Homo sapiens: one gene and its partner. The protein of the gene in region 1 interacts with the protein of each later gene in a pairwise test. Each region holds a gene or a part of one and is shown on either strand. Other genes may lie near its edges.

What was found.
Region 2: the proteins of RIDA (region 1) and HPD interact in a two-hybrid assay, tested with the Homo sapiens proteins (one large-scale study listed by BioGRID and IntAct).

The regions. Positions count from the first base shown.
Region 1 is NC_000008.11:98,101,788-98,104,774, reverse strand, and holds the end of RIDA (2-iminobutanoate/2-iminopropanoate deaminase), read left to right. Parts: intron 1-230; coding exon 231-286; intron 287-1,870; coding exon 1,871-1,933; 3' UTR 1,934-2,431; downstream 2,432-2,987. UniProt on the Homo sapiens protein: Catalyzes the hydrolytic deamination of enamine/imine intermediates that form during the course of normal metabolism. May facilitate the release of ammonia from these potentially toxic reactive metabolites, reducing their impact on cellular components.
Region 2 is NC_000012.12:121,841,598-121,845,420, reverse strand, and holds part of HPD (4-hydroxyphenylpyruvate dioxygenase), read left to right. Parts: intron 1-1,588; coding exon 1,589-1,711; intron 1,712-3,823. UniProt on the Homo sapiens protein: Catalyzes the conversion of 4-hydroxyphenylpyruvic acid to homogentisic acid, one of the steps in tyrosine catabolism.

The DNA of each region.
Region 1 (2,987 bases):
CGCATCACTTCACTCCAGCCTTGGGCGATAGAGCAAGACTCTGTTTCAAAAAAATAAAAATAAATGTTGCTTATATCTAAGAACTGACTAGTATATGAAATATTTGCCAGATTATTAATTGTAGATATTGAATAACAATAGAATATCTGAAAACTAAAATAAAAATTTTCACTTGATCTTTATTTTTTCAACTCTTCTCTATTAAAAAAATGAAATTCTTTTAAATTCAGATTTCAAGAGTAATTTTCCTGCTAGAGCTGCTTACCAAGTTGCTGCTTTACCCAAAGTAAGTACACTTTAAATGACTAATGTACACAGTTTTCAGTTTCTACATTGTTTTCCTTCTATAAGTAAACTAAGCACTGTGAAAGGAAACTTAAAAGAAGTAGCCTGGGCAGGGTGGCTTACCCCTGTAATCCCAGTGCTTTGAGAGGCCAACACAGGAGGATCGCTTGAGGCCAGGAGTTCTAGACCAGCCTGGGCAACATAGCAAGACAGCCATCCCTACAAAAACAATTTAAAATTAGCCATGCATGGTGGTGGTGCACACCTATAGTCCCAGCTACTTGGTAGGCTGAGGTGGGAGGAACACTTGAACCCAGGAGTTCAAGGCTGCAGTGAGCTATAATCGAACCACTGTGCTGCAGCCTGGGTAACAGTGTGACCTTGTCTCTTAAAAAAAAAAAAAAAAAGAAAAGAAATAGACCCTGCTTCCCCAGGGACTTAAAGTCTGAAAGGAAATATCCCATATTACATGCATGAAAAAAAAATTAAGAAACCTTTTAAGACAGCACATGAACATAGAATCAGAATCAAAATACTTAAATTGTGAGAAAAGGCCAGGCGCGGTGGCTCACGCCTGTAATCCCAGCGCTTTCGGAGGCCGAGGCGGGCGGATCACAAGGTCAGAAGATCGAGACCATCCTGGCTCACATGGTGAAACCCGTCTCTACTAAAAATACAAAAAAAAATTAGCCGGGTGTGGTGGCGGACGCCTGTAGTCCCAGCTACTCGGGAGGCTGAGGCAGGAGAATGGCATGAACCCAGGAGGCAGAGCTTGCAGTGAGCCGAAATCGCGCCACTGCACTCCAGCCTGGGCGACAGAGCGAGACTCCATCACAAAAAAAAAAAAATTGTGAGAAAAAATAAAATAGCAGCTGTACTGTTGTAGTGTTACTTAGGGGACTATAAATTTGAGCCAGGTTTGTTTGTGAGTTCTGCAGTAAAAATTTCACCTGGATATTGTACAATTAAAAATCTAAGCCTTCCACTAGAAAAATAATCTCTAAACCAGGGGCACACATATTTCTCACCATTTTGATTTTGCTACTTTTAACTCAAAGCTTAGCAGCACAATATTCCTGCCTATAAAAAAGCAGCTCTTACTGACTTCCACTTGCAGTTTCTACTAAAGAAAATTTATGTTTTAAGAGTGTCATTTGTATTGCTTTAATTAGTTGTTACTTGGAATGATCATTATCAAACCTATTAAGGTACTGGGTGTAGTAGAAAGAGCTCTGAACTTGGAATCACAAGACAAGGGTTCAACCTCTGCTATCTAGCTTGTGACTTGGGATGACTTAATTACTCCTTCTACACTTCAGCATATCATTCTGTGAATTGAGGGGAAAATACGTCTCTAATAGGGCTTCTGTGAGAATCACATAAGCTAATATAGTATATGAATATACCTAGCATGGTAACCTGGTCTGTTATAGGTTCTTGGTGAATATTTCCTTCTCCTTTCCTTCCTTGAAAAGTTTAATGTTAAAAATGTTATATTGCTGTTGGTTGCATGTTTTTAGTAGGTATTATAGAGTTTGCAATTTGTACAAAATGATTACAACAAATTCTTTCATTTTCCTCACAGGGCAGCCGAATTGAAATTGAAGCAGTAGCTATCCAAGGACCACTGACAACGGCATCACTATAAGTGGGCCCAGTGCTGTGTAGTCTGGAATTGTTAACATTTTAATTTTTACAATTGATGTAACATCTTAATTAACCTTTTAATTTTCACAATTGATGACAGTGTGAGTTTGATGAAAATATCTGAAGCTATTATGGAAATACCATGTAATAGGGAGAGTTGAACATGAATATTAGAGAAGGAATCCAGTTACTTTTTTAAATTACACCTGTGTGCACCTGTATTACTGAATATAGGAAAGAGATACCCATTACATAGTTACTCAGTAAACAAAAGAGAAATACCAGGTAGGAAAGAAGAGTTACTATTCCTGAGAAATAATCAAGAACATATTTAATTTAAACTAATGATGTGAACTATTTAGTTTTGATGTCCGTTATGTGATTCTGCTTTTACTTGAGTAAAATTAAAGTGTTTAAATTTGAGATCAAGGAGAAGATAGTGGAACAAAATGTTATATAGATAATATTTTTCTAATGGAAATAAAATAGGCAGATTTCCTTTGGTGTGATTTTGTTCACTTATTTCTTAACAGTTTATACATTAAAACGTATTGCCTAGTGGGGGCAGGTAAAGTTAAAATCTCCAACTATTTCATTTTTCAAAGCCTACTTCTGACTTCATACACTTTTTTTTGTTTTTGTTTTTGTTTTTTATTTTTGAGACAGAGTCTCGCTGTGTCTCCCAGGCTGGAGTGCAGTGGCGCGATCTCGGCTCACTGCACGCTCCGCCTCCCGGGTTCACACCATTCTCCTGCCTCAACCTCCTGAGTAGCTGGGACTACAGGCGCCCGCCACCACTCCCGGCTAATTTTTTTTTTATATTTTTAGTAGAGACAGCGTTTCACCGAGTTAGCCAGGACGGTCTCGATCTCCTGACCTCATGATCCGCCTGCCTTGGCCTCCCAAAGTGCTGGGATTACAGCTGTGAGCCACCGTGCCCAGCTGACTTCATACACTTTTATACAGTTTATTTTTTTCAACAGTTATGGCCAGCTATTACATGAAACCTCATTTAAACTTTCTAGTCTTCAGCAGTTTTGGCCATTTACAGTGTT
Region 2 (3,823 bases), on another chromosome or scaffold:
GTTTCACTGTGTTAGCCAGGATGGTCTCGATCTCCTGATCTTGTGATCTGCCCACCTTGGCCTCCCAAAGTGCTGGGATTACAGGTGTGAGCCACTGCGCCCGGCCATAAGACCTCATCTTTACAAAAAAATCAAAAAATTAGCCAGGTGTGGTGGTGCACACCTGTGGTTCTAGTTACCCAGAAGTCTGAAGTAGGAGGATCAGCTGAGCCTGGGGAGGTTGAGGCTGCAGTGAGCTAAGATCATGCCACTGCACTGCAGCCTGGGTGACAGAACAAAGACCCTGTCTCTCAAATATATATATGTGTGTGTATATATATATATATCCTTCTTTTTTGAGATGCAGTCTTGCTCTGTCTTCTAGGCTGGAGTGCAGTGGTGCGATTTTGGCTCACTGCAACCTCCACCTCCTGGGTTCAAGCGATTCTCCTGCCTCAGCCTCCCAAGTAGCTGGGATTACAGGTGCATGACACCACGCCTGGATAACTTTTTTTGTATTTTATTTTTATTTTTTATTTTTTATTTATTTTATTTTATTTTGAGACAGAGTCTCGCTCTGTTGCTCAGGCTAGATTGCAGTGACGCGATCTCGGCTCACTGCAAGCTCTGCCTCCCGGGTTTACGCCATTCTCCTGCCTCAGCCTCCCAAGTAGCTGGGACTACACGCTCCCACCACCACGCCCAGCTAATTTTTTTTTTGTATTTTTAGTAGGGGTTTCACTGTGTTAGCCAGGATGGTCTTGATCTCCTAACCTCGTGATCACCCATCTTGGCCTCCCAATGTGCTGGGATTACAGGCGTGAGCCACCTCGCCCGGCCTTTTTTTTGTATTTTTAATAGAGACAGGATTTTGCCATGTTGGTCAGGCTGGTCTCCAACTCCTGACTTCAAGTGATCTGCCCGCCTCAGCCTCCAAAAGTGCTGGGCTTACAGGCGTGAGCCACCACACTCGGCCTAATAGATCCTTAATCGTTTCATGCCTCAGTTTCCCCAGCTATGAAATGGGAGAATAGTCCTTCAGCTGCCTCAAAAGATTGCTGCATGGACATAATGAGGGAATACGTAGAAAGTGCTCAGGCCGGGCTCAGTGGCTCACGCCTGTAATCCCAGCACTTTGGGAGGCCGAGGTAGGTGGATCGCCTGAGGTCAGGAGTTCGAGACCAACCTGGCTAACATGGTGAAACCCCATCTCTACTAAAAATACATAGCTGAGTGTGATGGTAGTCACCTGTAATCCCAGCTACTCAGGAGGCTGAAGCAGGAGAATCGCTTGAACCGGGAGGCAGAGGTTGCAGTGAGCTAAGATCGTGCCACTGCACTCCAGCCTGGGCAACAGAGACTCCATCTCAAAAAAAAAGAAAAAAAGAAAGTGCTCAAGGCAGGCACATGGTGAGTGTTCTATAAATCTAGCAGTTGTTGTTCTAACGGGGCCCATGACAGAGAAGAAAGGGGAAGAGGCCACACAGCATCCTGGCAGTTGAGGGGAGCTAGGATAGGGACCCTGTATCCTGATGACCCAGCACCTCCACCTGGCTAGGGGAGTTGAACTTGGAGGCCGAAGGCTGACCTCAGCTTTGCTCTGAAACAGATTCGCCACTTGAGAGAGAGAGGCCTGGAGTTCTTATCTGTTCCCTCCACGTACTACAAACAACTGCGGGAGAAGCTGAAGACGGCCAAGATCAAGGTGAAGGAGAACATTGATGCCCTGGAGGTGAGGCCCAGGCAGGATCCGCAGCCTTGTGGGGGGAGTATGAGCTCTGCATTGCATCTTTTCAGAAATATTGTCTCAGCCCGGAGGGGAGCCCAGACCAAGTCCCTGCTGGCAAAGGACATTTATTCTAGGGTCTATGTGGGAGGAGGAGACAGATGACAAACAAATAAACAATAAAAGCACGGTCAGAGATAGTCAGTGCAGGAAGTTCAAACAGGCAGCCTGGGGCTGCTTTACAGAGACTGGTCAGGGAGGGCCTCTCTGAGGAGGTGACATCTGAGTGAAGTCTAGATCATGAGCGGGAGCTGGCCATGTGAACAGCGGGAAGAAAGGCATTCCTGGCAGAGGGATCAGCAAGGGCCGAGGTAGGAGCATGCCCTGAGCGTCTGAGGAACAGAAAGAATAGGCTAGAGTGGATGGGAGGCTGTTTTTGAGCGATGACCTAGGTCAGACAGGTAAGCAAGAGCCAGTTCCTCTTGTGAGCTATTATTCAGGAATCTGGATTTTGTTCTTTTGTGACCAGAAACCACTGGAGGGTTTTTTGGTTTGGTTTTAGCAGTGTTATTGACATATGTCACATAACATGTCATTTTTTTAAGGTGTACAATTCTATGATTTCTAGCTATTTGCTATGTTGTGCAACTATCATCAAAATCCATTTTAGGACTGGGTGTGGTGGTTCATGCTTGTAATCTCAGTACTTTGGGAGGCCGAGGCGGGCGGATCATGAGGTCAGGAGTTCGAGACCAGCCTGACCAACATGGTGAAACCCTGCCTCTACTAAAAATACAAAAATTAGCCAGGCGTGGTGACACATGCCTGTAATCCCAGCTACTCAGGAGGCTGAGGCAGGAGAATCACTTGAACCCGGGAGGCGGAGGTTGCAGTGAGCCGAGATTGCGCTACTACATTCCAGCCTGGGCGACACAGTGAGACTCTGTCTCAAAAAAAAAAAAAAAAAAAAAAAAGATCCATTTTAGGACTAGGTATGGTGGTTCATGCCTGTAATCCCAGCACTTTGGGAGGCCAAGGCAGGTGGATCACTTGAGGTCAGGAGTTTGAGACCAGCCTGGTCAATATGGCGAAACCCCCATCTCTACAAAAAGAAAAAAAAAAATTAGCTGTGCGTGGTGATCTGTGTCTGTGGTCCCAGCTACTGGGGAGGCTGAAGTGGGAGAATCACTTCAACCCAGGAGGTAGAGGCTACAGTGAGCCATCATCAGGCCACTGCACTCCAGCCTGGGTGATACCCTGTCTAAAAGAAAAACAAAAACAGTTAGGCCAGACACAGTGGCTCACACCTATAATCCCAGCATTTTGGGAGGTTGAAGTGAGAGGATTGCTTGAGGCCAGGAGTTTAAGACCAGCCTGAGAAACACAGGGCGACCCTGTATCTACAAAAAAAACAGTTTTAAAAAATTAGCTGGGCATGGTGGTTCGTGCCTGTAGTCCCAGCTACTCAGGAGGCTGAGGTGAGAGGATCACTTGAGGCCAGGAGGTCAAAGCTGCAGTGAGCCATGATCAGGCTACTGCATTCCAGCCTGGGCAAAAAATCAATTTTAGAACATTTTTGTCACCCCAAAAAGAAACCTTGAGCCTCTTAGCCAGCACCTCCCAACCCCCTCTGTTCCCTTCCCCCCTCCCACCCCAGCCCTAGGCACCATTAATCTACCTTCAGTCTCTATAGATTTGCCTATTCTGGACATTTCATCAAAAGGAATCACAAAGTCCAGGCACGGTGGCTCATGCCTGTAATCCCAGCACTTTGGGAGGCTGAGGTGGGCGGATCATGAGGTCAGGAGTTCAAGACCAGCCTGGCCAACATGGTGAAACCCTGTCTCTACTAAAAATACAAAAATTAGCTGGGTGTGATAGCAGATGCCTGTAATCCCAGCTACTGGGGAGCCTGAGGCCGGAGAATTGCTTGAACCCAGGGAAGGGGAGGTTGCAGTGAGCCGAGATCGCGCCATTGCACTCCAGCCTGGGCGACAGAGTGAAACTCCATCTCGGAAAAAAAAAAAAAGGAATCACAAAATAGGCCTATTGTGAGCAGCTTCTTTCCCATAGCATGTGCTCAAGGTTCATCTGCGTGGGGTGTGTGTCAGTGCTTCG